Linked DNA regions of Homo sapiens. The protein of the gene in region 1 purifies or fractionates together with the protein of each later gene. This does not show direct contact. Each region holds a gene or a part of one and is shown on either strand. Other genes may lie near its edges.

The links. The genes of interacting proteins can lie anywhere in the genome.
Region 2: the proteins of FAM163B (region 1) and PLXNC1 purify together in Homo sapiens (affinity purification with mass spectrometry; one large-scale study listed by BioGRID and IntAct). This does not show direct contact.
Region 3: the proteins of FAM163B (region 1) and QNG1 purify together in Homo sapiens (affinity purification with mass spectrometry; one large-scale study listed by BioGRID and IntAct). This does not show direct contact.
Region 4: the proteins of FAM163B (region 1) and CCNB2 purify together in Homo sapiens (affinity purification with mass spectrometry; one large-scale study listed by BioGRID and IntAct). This does not show direct contact.

The regions. Positions count from the first base shown.
Region 1 is NC_000009.12:133,581,890-133,585,389, reverse strand, and holds part of FAM163B (protein FAM163B), read left to right. Parts: intron 1-514; exon of another isoform or gene 515-1,151; intron 1,152-3,050; exon of another isoform or gene 3,051-3,500.
Region 2 is NC_000012.12:94,305,577-94,308,175, reverse strand, and holds the end of PLXNC1 (plexin-C1 precursor), read right to left. Parts: 3' UTR 501-2,599; downstream 1-500.
Region 3 is NC_000009.12:83,953,943-83,958,066, forward strand, and holds the start of QNG1 (queuosine 5'-phosphate N-glycosylase/hydrolase), read right to left. Parts: upstream 2,801-4,124; 5' UTR 2,559-2,800; coding exon 2,222-2,558; intron 1,699-2,221; coding exon 1,439-1,698; intron 1-1,438.
Region 4 is NC_000015.10:59,108,146-59,111,645, forward strand, and holds part of CCNB2 (G2/mitotic-specific cyclin-B2), read left to right. Parts: intron 1-3,500. UniProt on the Homo sapiens protein: Essential for the control of the cell cycle at the G2/M (mitosis) transition.

The DNA of each region.
Region 1 (3,500 bases):
ACAGAAAACTAGCAGAGTCTGAAATTCAGCACGGGACGTGTGGCCCAGATGGTGGTTAGCAGGGGGTCTCCTGCCAGGGAAAGGTGGGTGTGGGGAGGGGGCTCCCGGGGGAGGCAGGTGGAGGCCCGTGTCTGGCTCTGCTGCCAGGTGTTTCCTGCCCCACCCCCAGCTCCACGCCATTCATTCCTCGGTGCCGGTGCCGCAGGAGACAACTGAAGCTTGTAAACGCAGCTGGCTCTCCCTGCCGGCTACAGAGACGAGATGGGGCCCTCAGAAGGGGACTGTTGCCCGCCCAGGCCCCCTTGCCACAGACTCTGTGGACTGGGGTGGGGGACGCACAGGGGAGCCCCATCTCACAACCTGTCCCTGTAAAAACCCGGGGTGGGAACAGGGAAGCAAAGCCATTTATAAAGCTTTAAAACCATTTATGGTCCCAGGGGGCAGATAAACAATTCAGCGCTATTCTCGCCAAATTGCCTTGGCTGGCAGTGCGGAGGCTTCAGGGAGCTGGAAGAGGGGTGGGGCTCGAGTCACAAGCAGGCGGCAGAGTAGCCTCTGCCAGGCTGTTGCTGGGCCTGACCCGCATGGCTCTGCCTCCGAGGCTTGGCCTGTGCTGTTCCCAGCACCAACAGGCCCTCTCCTTCTTCTCCCAGCCCATCCTTCACAGCCCGGCTCAGAAGCTTCCTCCTCCAGGAAGTTTCCCTCGGTTCCTCCCCCATCCGTTACCACCCTGAGCAGCCAAGTCCTCCCCTGTTCTCTCAGGCACTCAGCTTTCTCAGAGCACAAGTATCCTTGGGAGCCAAAGTGTCTGTAGCCCTTCCCGTTCTCTGCCTACCCTTGGAGGGTGTCATCTGGCTTTTTCGCCTTATCACTTGATGTTTGTTTACATTTTCATAATCCTGACTTTGTTGGGTGTCTAAATCATCTGGATTCCTGGCAGGACCAATTAAAAATCCAAGTCCCCCAGAGTTGGGAGGAATCAGCGTCTAAACCCTGCCACACCCATTGTACAGATAAGAAAACTGAACCCAGGGAGAGGCCTCTGACCCAAGGTCACCCGCAAGAGTAGAGCAGGACAGAGGCCCCGCAGACTCGTATCACCTGGGCCACAGCTGAGTAGAGTCCTGGGGTCCCCAGGGAGGAGGCTGAAGGTAAGCACTCAGGGAGGGCAGCAGGTGGTCCATATTCTTCCCCCATTAAATGAAGGGGTGGGACCTGGTCCCTCTCAGCTCTGGCGTTTGAAGTTTTGAAGTTCTGTGGTGTGTATTAAAGTTCAGGAAGGCTTCCTGGGAGAGGAGGGCACGTGCTGGGCTTTGATGGCGTGGTAGGTCCGGGGGGGGGATGGGCATCCCAGAGGGTGGGGCACAGCTAGAGCAGAGGGGAGGCAGGAGGGTGGAGGCCCAGGGAGGCCGTGTTTTTGGGAGCTGCTCGGAGTGAACTGTGGTCTGATGTCAGGCTGGGCGCTGGTGGAGCTGCCAGCGGAGTGTGTGTCTGTCGGCCATGCCTGGCCCTGGGACCTGGCGCCGTCTCGGGCGTTGCTGCTCCTCGGCAGGCGTGTATCTGCAGAGCGAGGCTGAGAGGCTCCAGCTGGACCAGCCTGGGTGTTGGAGGGTGGCTGCTGACAGCCCTGGGCACCTGGCCTGAGCCGGCACCCTTCCCGTCACGCCGCCAGGCTGCTCTCCGCTGGAGGAGACCTGGGCCCAGAGGAGCTGCAGCCAGGCGGAGCCAGGGACCGGCTGCATCTCAGACCTGAGAGAGAGCTTTGCGGCGAGCGGGGCCAGCTCCCTCAGGGACCCGATGAAGGACTCAGACCCAGGGAGGGACACGGTCCTAACATCAGCACAGCACTGAGCATGGTGCAGCTGCTGTCCCACAGAACCCCTGGGGTTCTCCCATTTTATAGAGGAGGGAACTGAGGCAGAGGAATGGAGGCACTGAAGGCCCATTCTTGCAGCTAACCAGAGGCAAAGCCAGGCTGGCACTTGGGGGTTTAGCCTGGGTGTCCTGTATGGCTCCCCAGTACCTGTCCCTGAGGGAGCACCTCAGCCCAGCCATGGCCACCTACAGTCTCCATCCTCCCTGCAGTCTCAGCCTGACAGCAGTGGGAGCCCCTCCACCCAGGCCCATGCTTCCCTATGGGAAAGCAGTGGCCCCCATTGCTATCAGTAAGCCCTAGCAGTGGGCCCTCAGCCATGGCCCGTAGTGGAGGGTGGTGCTGAATTTTAATCCCTGCATGACCACAGACAACACTCGGGCACGAGCCTCCACCTCCCTCAACCCCTCCCAAGCTGTGTGAGTGCCCTCATTGATGAAGTGGGGCCATAATTACCTGGGTGCAAATAGCAAAAATGCCCTCCAGGTGACATACACACAGTAGGTGACATACACACAGCAGGAGTCACTCTGCAGGTGTCGGGGAGGGATCGGCACCTGAGTCAGGACCACAACAGCAATCTCTCCGGCAGCTGTGGCCTTCCTCGCTCCCTCCGGGGACCAGCGCCTTCTGACTCTCCAACATGTGGCTGAAAACCCCACCCGTGGCTACAGCCTGGCCACAGCCTGAGCACTCATGTCTCTACCCAAGGTCAAGCGACCAGCAGGGACCGGCCAGTGTCTCAGGCCTTAATTCCATTTCCCAGGAGAGAGGCCGGCTGGCCCAGCCTGGGGTGCACGTCCATCCCAAACCCAATAAACTGTGGCCGAAAGGACAGCAGCAGAGGGCTCAGAAGTGGCCACCAGCCTCTTGGCTCAGGGCACAAAGAAGAGGGCCATGGCTGGGCCAGCACCCCCAAACCTGCTATCAGCACAGTGTGTGCTTCCCCAAAGGAGCTGTGGCATTCAAGGCATTCACGTGGAGGAGACATGGGGTTCAGCAGTCGGGGTAGGGTGGCAGGGGCCCCAAGGTGGATGGTAGCAGCGGATCCAGCCCTGACCTGACCCAGATCCCTCATCTTACTGGTGCTGGGGCCTGGGCGGGTCATTTCTCTCCAGGCCTCGGTTTGCTCCCTAGTGGGATCATTTGAACATCAAAAAGAATCATGACTGCAGTGGACTGAAACGCATCAAATATATTTTCAAAAATCAGTGAGATTGCACTGGGCAAGTTTCCACGTAGAAAGGCAAGCTGGGGCAGACAACAGGCTGGGACCAGTAGGCACGCGGGGCCTGCAAAGGGGGCAGGGTCACTTTTGGTTCACTGAGAGGTGTGGATCTGGGCTGGCCTGTTCTCCGTCCTCTCGGCACACACACAGCCACAAACCTCAGGGCACCAGCTCATTCTGATCCCTGATAAAGGGAGGAATGGAACCTCTGAGCCTTCCCTCTGCAGGCCGCATGCTAGGGTAACCACACAGATGATAAAGGCATGTGCTTTAGAGCTTTTTCAAGAAGAACTGGAGCTCATAAACGTGGAAAGAAGGATAACATTTGGAAAGTCACTACTTTGTAACTCCTAGTGAAGTAACAGATCCAGGTCACGCACAGGATGCTGCAGCAATGGG
Region 2 (2,599 bases), on another chromosome or scaffold:
CCTATGGCTGTATTAACAAGGGGGCCATTGATTATAAAACTTGAACTCAGGTCCTTTTATAAACATTGTTGGTATTTAACTTTACTTCCCATTACTGTGGATCTAACCAAATAATTATGTGTTTTGTGTCCCTAAGTATGCTCTCATTTTTTTTGGTCTACACCCATTGGAAGCCTTTTTAATGTGACATCTTTTAGAGGAATTCTGCTGGAATAATTTCATGTTAACGAGGCTAAAGCTCAAGTCTCCCAAATTAAGTGGAATGTTCATTATCCCAAGGTGTTCATAGTCAAAAGTCCCAGTTGATAGTGAAGAAGGCCAGGACTGTAATTGAGCAGTCCTTAGCACCATTTAGCAAACTAGGTTTACTTACTACATAATATAGCTGCTTATTCACAGCATATACAGTGACACCTTATCTCTGAAAAATAATTTCCACGGAGCCACTTAGAATAAAAAAACTATTATAACTAGAAAATTGAAAAAAAAAAAAGACAGTCCACAGTTACATCAAAATGTTTATTTTTTGGATATAGACATTTAAAACATTCATCTCCAAGAACAGCTTCAATCAGGTATACAATAAGAAATAGACTTTAAATCCTAATACAGAAAAGGTAACAGAATTTTTTTGAATGCTGCTGTAGACACTAGTGTTAGAAAAAAAAGTTTATAAATGGTTTTGCACCAAAAAAATATGCAAAGAAACTTGAAAATAGAAATTGTTTGCCATTTGTTGCTCTGGTTGCTGTTTAATATAGACCCAGTGACTGATTGTCTTCAGCACACATCTAATTTGGCCATTTACTGCATTTGGCTAATGTGATCCAAAATGTGATCTAGATAGTGCTTTTCACTGGAGGATTGACAAACACGCTACATACATTAGTGAATCTTCATACCACCTCAGTGAGGTAGCTTAGAAATATTATACAGAAATTGAGGCACAAAGAGGTAAGTGACTTGCCCAAAGTTCCCAACAGCACAGTCCCTGGAAGAGGAGGTAACTCTCCACACAGGACTCATGTGCCAGAAAGCTGGACAGGGACACCCTCATGTAGCATTTAGTAAATACTTAGATAAAGCTGTAGCTGATCCTTTGAGTTTTCAGTACCCTAAAGTAGTAGGGGAAGTCTTTTGGGCAACTCTCCTACCCTTGGCTCTCAACTTTCCTACTGTTGTTCTCTTATGAACTCCTTCACCTCTTTGAAGACTGTAGCAGCCTTCAATGGGGACCAGACCTCTCACCTTTATTCTGATCTGTCATCTATTTGGTAGTTTTGTTTGTTTGAGGTGTGTCCGTTGGACAGACAATGGTCAAAAGCAACAGGATTGGGAAGGTGCCTATCAGGGTAGTAACTGCTTATTTTCTCTGATCAGTTTGTTGAGGTGTCACCTCTCTCATGCTTTTCCAGATAATACAGAAGCAAAAAGGAATTGCCTTTAAGACAAATTCATATTTAAATCCTAATGCTCCATACAGTGTTGGTAAATGATTTCAAGGAATATGTGATCAATGTTATTTGACTTGAAAAAATTTTCTTTCCTAGATGGGGGATTTGGAGCACCAAGGGTAAAAGGTGCCTGCCACAAGAAAAGCTCAAGAGTTGCCAATTATGCTGTTTACTTCTTCTGGTTTAATAGAAGGAAAACACAGTGGTATTAAAACTGGTCATGAGCAGCAAAAATTCAGGAATTAAAAAATCAGCACTAAAAAGACTACAGTATAACTGGATAGAGAATTCTTTAAAAAGAAAGGCATGAATAAAATGGGTATTTTAAATTCTTTCTCCTGCGAGGAATACTTTCAAAAAGTACATAGTAAGACTAAGATACCAAGTTGTATACTAATATTTTTCAGGCCTTGGGCCTCAAATATATATATTTATATATAATACTCCAGTGTGAACAGCAATTCGATAAAATGTAAAATGTATCTTTTTTTTTTTAAATCACACACAAGTATTCATAACCACAGGGTTCACCAGAAATCTAAAGCAAGGAGACACTCACTCATATAGAAATGGAGTTACTCTTCCACAGATCGTTCTGATCAAAGGTTTTGGAACAGAAATGAATTAATGATTTTTTTGTATAATATCCAACATGTCCACTATCAAATACATTTAGTATGAAAAAACAGATGAAGAAAAGGAACATACATTAGGACAAAGTATCTGGTTAAAATGCTGTTCATTTAAATAAAGCCCACTCTCCTTACTTTAGAGCTCCTTGGTGAAATGGAGGTGAGTTTGATGGAGTGCAGTTGATGACCACTGAAAAACACGAGCCCTTTCAACAATGTTGCAACACTGTTAGTTTTTGGTTTAAACACACACACACACTCACAAATGCTAAGTGTACACTACCAAATTCTGCGGTCAGCTTTTCCAAGAACTACTGGGGAAAGTTTCAATGCTGCAAATCCTCGAGGTTGCCCTAACACCCCCACCTTGTTTCCAAATGACTCATTTCACATTTTGTTTTGAGCACTGGCAGTATCCCTTTACAATGCAGAGGTGCAGTGTAGCACAAGTGCTACATAGCTGTAGTTTTCAAACAAAACCACTTATATCATTGTGCTTAAGTGGAGACTGTA
Region 3 (4,124 bases), about 50 Mb from region 1:
GGAGTGCAGTGGTGCAATCTCGGCTCACTGCAGCCTCCACCTCTCGGGTTCAAGCGATTCTCCTGCCTCAGCCTCCTAAGTAGCTGGGACTACAGGTGCGTGCAACCATACCCAGCTAATTTTTGTATTTTTAGTAGAGATGGGGTTTCACCATGTTGCTAGGCTGGTCTTGAGCTCCTGACCTCAGTTGATCCACCTACCTAGGCCTCCCAAAGTGCTGGGATTACAGGAGTGAGCCACCGAGTCTGGCCAGAAATACTTTTTATTAGGGAGAGGTTAGTATACATTCTGATCTTCAACCAATAAAGTAACCTTCTTGAAGTACTAAAAATACTTAATTTTCCATAAGGAGAACATTACATGGAGGGTTCCATGTTTTTTAGGTTTGAAACATTTTAAAAGGAAAAAAAAGGAAGTAAAGAATGAAATATTGATTAGAAAACATAAGAAATGAGATGAAACTCCATCTCTACTAAAAATACAAAAAAACTTAGCCAGGTGTGGTGGCATGCGCCTGTAGTCCCAGCTACTCAGGAGGCAAAGGCAGGAGAATCGCTTGAACCCGGGAGGCGGAGGTTGCAGTGAGCTGAGATAGTGCCACTGCACTCCAGCCTGGGAGTCAGAGCAAGACTCCATCTCAGGGAAAGAAAAAAAAAAGGCCCGGCACAGTGGCTCACGCCTGTAATCCCAGCACTTTGGGAGACCGAGGTGGGTGGATCACGAGGTCAGGAATTCAAGACCAGCCTGGCCAACATGGTGAAACCCCGTCTCTACTAAAAATACAAAAATTAGCCTAGCGCAGTGGCGGGCACCTGTAATCCCAGCTAGTCGGGAGACTGAGGCAGGTGAATCACCTGAACCCGGGAGGCGGAGTTTGCAGTGAGCCAAGATCGCGCCACTGCACTCTAGCCTGGGTGACAGAGTAAGAGTCCATCTCAAAAAAAAAAAAAAAAAAAAAAAAAGGAAAGAAATGACGCCAGCGTGGTGGTTCACGCCTGTAATCACAACACTTTGGGAGGCTGAGGCGACCAGATTACCTGAGGTCGGGAGTTTGAGACCAGCCTGGCCAACATAGTGAAACCCCGTCTCTACTAAAAATACATAAAATTAGCCGGGCTTGGTGGCGCATCCCTGTAATCCAAGCTACTCGGGAGGCTGAGGCAGGAGAATCGCTTGAACCCGGGAGGCAGAGGTTGCGGTGAGCCAAGATCACGCCACTGCACTCCAGCCTGCGCAACAAGAGCAAAACTCTGTCTCAAACAAACAAACAAAAGAAAACATAAGAAATGACTTTGAAACACTACTTGATTTTGTTAGTTTCTTCCACAAGGAATACATTTAAAAATTTAAGTTTTTATTCTTAAAATGAGTTCTGGAAGTAAAAGAGTTAACTCTGAGATGATTAAGACTTCTAAAATCCCCAACAGAAGCAACTCACCTCAAACAGAGTCACATCTCTGTAAGAAGGAAAACTTTCAACCACCAGGTGCATTAACTTCTGCGCACTATTCTCACTTTCTCGGACGCAGTTGAGAAAAGAGCCTCCAAACTTCTCCAGCAGAATTTTCCCGGTTTCATTGAGAATCCGATGCCTCTCTTCTACTAAAGGCATGGAAACGTCTGTGTCAGAACGAAGTATATTCCGAACCTGATCCAGGGTCACTGTCGCGTAGTACGAGGCACTAGTTATTGGTATCCCTTTAGTGAAAAAATAAAATTCAGAGGACCAATGTCATACTTCCATATGCATTAAACCCTTGCTTTTACAACATGGAATTAATATGAAACCAAATGAGTGGTATAGGAATGCACCAAAAGTGGAAGAATAAAAAATCTAAAGCAAAACTCATTTTCTACTTGTTCATCTGTACTTATTCACCCATTTCTAACTATTGCAATATTACATCAGATGTATTCTGAGTAAATTGCTTTATAACATCGGTCCTTTTGTTCTTCAGGTGTCATTCAAATGGCATTCTTTATAAAACTGACTTTTATGCTACTGTAACTTTTATGCTGCAATGATAAATATTAACATCATTTTCCACTAAAATATGCCCCTTTTCATACTTCTATTTTAAGCATAAGGACTTGCAACGAACTTCAGGTTCGCTTTCCATTATTCCATCTCCCAACCCGCTCCTTGGAACTCCCCTACACACACCCCAAGTAAATGGAAACCTCAAAGGCCGTTAGGTCCGATGGCAAGTATGGCACCAACCTTCGTCGAGGGCTCTGTTGACGGCGGCGCACAGGGACCAGTACCCACTGTATGTTTTCCCTCTGTACCTCACCACACACTTGTGCTCGTCCTGCTCCGACCAAAAGGAGAAGTTGAGCGTGTCTGTCACGAACACCCAGTTGACCGCGGCCTCGTCGGCCGCCCTGGGGTTCAGCTCATGAAGGGCTTTCCACCCCTCCACGCGCAGCTCTGGCCCCGCCGCCTTGGCCAGCAGCAGCTCTGCCACCCTCCGTACGCCTCCGCTGTCAATAAACACATCCCGACTGTTTTCTGCAATGAATTTAGAGGATTCCCTGGGATTTAGGAGCCCGTCCATTCTGCCCTTTGGGACCCGGCGGGCCAAACTCTTCCCGCCCTAGGCGGGTCAAGGTCCACTCTGCGCCTTGCGCTACTACGAACCGCGCGATCACAGGGCCTAAACAAGGTCCCGCCCTGCCAGGGAGTGGCACCGAGAACTTAGTGCAGCCAAGGTAAAGGTTCTCTCCCGCGGCGTTGCCCTGATTAGGAAACCAGAGAGACCCCGGGGCAGCTCGCTGGGCAGAGGCCGCAAGCACTTCCGGGAAAGCGGTCCCGTTCACGCCCTCTCGGGCGCGCTCTCAGGCTCCGCTTCCGGTTCCAAAGGTCTGGAAACTGCTAAGGGTCCGGCGTTCACCGGCCGTGAGTTGCCCACCCTGGGAGGTGCATGGCTTTGCCATGTTTTGCCTTTTCTCACCCCGCTTCGGACAGGTGGGACTCGAAGACGGCGACTCGCCGCCTTGCCCTGGGTCGCGATGCCCCCACCCCGCTCCCACCCCTCTCCTTTCCCGCAGCCTGAGCAAGACGCCTTCGGCAACGCCCCGCATCCGGGCTCCTTGGCCTCGAAGAGCATTATGGCCGTAGATCTGGGTGCTGAGGACTGAGCCACCCCCAGACTGCGACATGGGCGGCGGTGCCTCCTTCCCCAAGCCCCAGGGAGTGTTTTTTTGTTTGTTTTGTTTTTTGTTTTTGTTTAAGTGAATTCCTGGCCCATTTGGCCGAACGAACGTTAGGATTAGTTGGAAGGTTTGGAGAAATGGATGAGGAAACAAATGTGTTAAATTGTTAAATTAACCTTGTGTGCCTGGCAGTGTACTTAAGTACTAAATCTCACCTAGGCTGGGTCATGACGAAAGCGGCTATTGTGATCCCGCTTTTGCAAGTGAAGCTGAGTGGTTCATTGATTAACCCCCATCACAGCAATGGTTTGGGCTAGGATTTAAACCTTTGATAATTGAGCCCCCTAAATCGAGGGCACTTTATGAGCCAATCACCAGTGCCAACCATTCTGGTCAGTCAAATAGTGACTATATCAGTGGCCCTACTGAGAAGACATTAAAAATGAGGAAATAAGTGTCTCACAACTGCAAACTTACACAAGTACCTTATATTAGGAGAGAGGTGTAGAAGCCAATTTAGTGATGATCCAAATTTGACTGGTGATGAAGTTTTAGTATAAAGGTATGCATTTTTTTTCCTTTTGGAGACTTAAATCTCCATGGATAACGTTCACATCTTTGAAAATCACCTATTAAAAATAATCATCAGTACCCATCTCTAGTTACCGACAGGAAAATCTTGGTATTTTTGGAGGATTCGGAGCTTTTAAATTTGTTTGTTTGAGACAGAATCTCACCCTGTCGCCCAGGCTGGAGTGCAGTGGCATGATCTCAGCTCACTGCAACCTCCACCTCCCCGGTTCAAGTGATTCTCCCTGCCTCAGCTTCCCAAGTAGCTGGGATTATAGGTGTCAGCCACCACACCTGACTAATTTTTGTATTTTTAGTAGAGATGGGGTTTCCCTATGTGGGCCAGGCTGGTCTCAAACTCCTGACCTCAGGTAATCCACCCTCCTCGGCCTCCCAAA
Region 4 (3,500 bases), on another chromosome or scaffold:
GTTTGTGGAGAACAAAGTAGCAACAAAGATCAAGGTACCAAAGCGGATATGGACCTATAATCATGTCCTTTCGTTAAGGAGTCTGAAAGACTTAACTGAGTCAGGCGGCTTGAGTGAGGAACCAGAAGATAAGGCTGGGAAGAAGGTTGCAGTTGGATTTGAAGGACTTGGAATTTGGATTTTTATCCCATTAGGCTTGAGGAAACAAAGTTTTGAGGAGTACCGAAATGATGAAAACAATGTAGGGAGGTAAGTTAGGAGGTATTGCACTTATCCAAGCAAGAGCTGATGAGGGTCTGGAGCTAGCCCAGATCTTCCCTAAGCGCCTACCCATACACCAGTATCAATAGTGGGTATGAAGAAACAACATCAAATGTGTTAGGATGTCTCAGAATGTCTTTCATCTTGTATTTAGGAAAGAATACTTTGGACACATGGCTTGCACTGCAGGAGTGGTATCCTTACCCACTTGGATATTAAATAAACCATTTATGCAATAAATGAACAAAAAGTAGGAAAGTCAGGAGAGGGCGGTAGCTTTGGTAAAGGTATCCTGTTTGGCTTCCGATTTGTTGAGGTAACCGAGGGACATCTGCCTGGAAATGCAGTTGGAAATGTGGCAGCAACATCTGAAGGCAAGGAACAGATTTGTCAGCTTTCTTCACAGAGATGATGGTTGAAAGCTCTTTGCTCTTTATGAGAACTAAAGCTTAGAAAAAGTAGTTGAGATGGGACTTCATTTAAAAAGCCTTCCCTAGAAGGTTTCTATAACAGTGACCTCCTGAAAGCCAAACCCAAAGGCTGGTTTTCAGACCTTGATCTCTTAGCAGTTGTGCAGTGTTTTACATGTGTAATGGTTTGAATGTGGTTCCTCCCACATCGCAGGAGGGCGATTTGGCAGTATATGTATATATTTTTGGGGGGGGACGGAGTCTTGCTCTGTCGCCCAGGCTGCAGTTCAGTGGCTCGATCTCTGCTAACTGCAACCTCCGCCTCCCGGGTTCAAGCGATTCTCCTGTCTCAGCCTCCCGAGTAGCTGGGATTACAGGTGCATGCTACCATGCCCAGCTGATTTTCACTATGTTGGCCTGGCTGGTCTCCAACTCTTGACCTCAGGTGATCCACCTGCCCCCGCCCCTCAAAGTGCTGGGATTACAGGTGTGAGCCACTGCGCCTGGCGGTAGTATATTTCAAATGGTTATTCTCCATACCCAGTAGCTTTGTTTTTTATCCAAAGAAAATGATCAGAGGGATAATCAAGTACTTTTAGATAGTGCTATGATGAGTGTCTCTTATAGAGTAGAGAAATACCCTAGTTAAATCCATTTAAGGAAATACTATGCAGCCATAAATATCATGTTTTAGTAGAATATTTAAAGGCATCAAAATGCTTGTAACATTAAGTGGAAAAATCAGATTATAACAATATATAAACAGTGCAACCCCAGATTTGCTTTTAAAATGTACATTTGTATGCAGAATATTGATGGTAGTTATTTTTGAATATTATGTTGGACTTAAGATTGACTTTCATTTTCTTCCTTAAAACGTCAAACTTTGGCCGGGTGCAGTGGCTCACGCCTGTAATCCCAGCACTTTGGGAGGCCGAGGCGGGCGGATCGCGAGGTCAGGAGATCGAGACCATCCTGGCTAACACAGTAAAACCCCGTCTCTACTAAAAATACAAAAAATTAGCCGGGCGAGGTGGTGGGCGCCTGTAGTCCCAGCTACTTGGGAGGCTGAGGCAGGAGAATGGCGTGAACCCTGGGGGCCGGAGCCTGCAGTGAGCCGAGATTGTGCCACTGCACTCCAGCCTGGGCGACAGCGAGACTCTGTCTCAAAAAACAACAACAACAAAACAAGAACAAAAACAAAAAACTTCAAACTTTTACCATGGGTACATATTACTGTTCAAGTTAGAGAAGAAGAAAAGAAGGCTTTTTTTTTTCTTTTTTTAAAAGCAAAGACCATAAATATGTTACTAAAGAAACAAAGGGAAAAATAGTTTCCTCCTGTGACCTCCATAACTTCATCCTTTTTGTGTTTCCTTTACTCCTTGGCTGACTCCTTTTTCTCTTGCTTCCTGGCAAAATTGAGGCCACTGTTTGAGATAAAGCATTATGGACCCGTAGCTCAGTTCATATAAAAATCAATTCCAGGGTTGAAACATATAGCTACATGTTCTAGATTTAGAAGTTATGAGGAATTAATGAACAGGAATTATTTCCAATTCAAATACATTTCCCTCTGAGAAAGTAGTGAAGGAATCTCTAAGTCCACGATTTAGGTAGAGTCCCACCTTCTAGCAGGTGAGTCTCTCTGCCTGCCTGTCTCTGGTCAGCCTTCTGGCTTTTACTTTGTCATCTGCTTTATCTGCAGGGTTATCACTGTTCTTTAGAGCCAATCCCTGGAGGTGTGGAAATGCCACTTGAGTGCACAGGTTTCTATCAATTTTCCTGGAAAGGTGATAACATAAGCCATGTGTCCATGATAGGAGATGTTCCCAGTCTTCTAACCAAATTTATACTATCCTTTTTGCAAAACTGGAGGGCAGGTTTCTTTCTCTGTAGCAGTTGACACAACTGAATCACAAAGTGCCCTGGCTGAGACCTCGGAAGAGTTCCAGCCCTTTACAGGTAGTCATAGAAGCTTATTATCCTGCAGGTTTTGGAGAAAATGGTGTTTTTTGCTGATTAATGAGGCTTTGGTAAACACAGTAGTTAGAAAGGACATGGAAGGCTTTCTACTAGTCCCATGTTTGCTGGACACTGGGGAAACAAGTTGAATAAACCATCGATTCTGTCTAGAGGAGCTCCCAGTCAAGTTGGAGGACATAGGAGTAGAAGTATGGCTTTATCTGTCACAAAGAGAGATGCATGCTTATGAGAGGTACTGAGGAGTCATAGCTAGAACAGATTACCTGACCAGATGAGTAGGATCTTAGAAAGGGTCTTACAATAATTAAATTATGTTGGAGTTCAAAATGAATGCTTTCAAGGAATTCTAAATTAAGGGCCAGGGCAAGAATCTTTGTCTTATCCTAGTGGCTTTTGTTGTTGACTGCTTGATTGATGGAGAAGATCTCACTATGTTGCCCAGGTTGGACTCAAACTCCTGGGCACAAGCAATCCTCCCACCTTGGGCTTCCAAAGTGCCCGGATCACAGATGTGAGCCACCACGCCAAGCCCTTGGTGGCTTTTGGATATGGCTAAACTCAGTTGCACTTCTGAATAGGAGCCAGAAAAATATTCTAAAGTGGTATGATAGCACATGATAACCTCTATCTCCTTAAACCAGACTTTTTGTTATTGACTGCCCTTCCAGGGGTGGGTGATAATGCTTATCCTTGAAAAAGTTAACCTTCAGCTGAAGCTGCATATGCTTATTACAATGCAAATCTGATTCTAGTCACTTGATAAACTCCTTCAGTTTTTCACCTTAACGTTTGGATAAAATCTAAGCTTCTAGAAGCTCGGCTGTTGTTCAGCTTTTCAGCTCA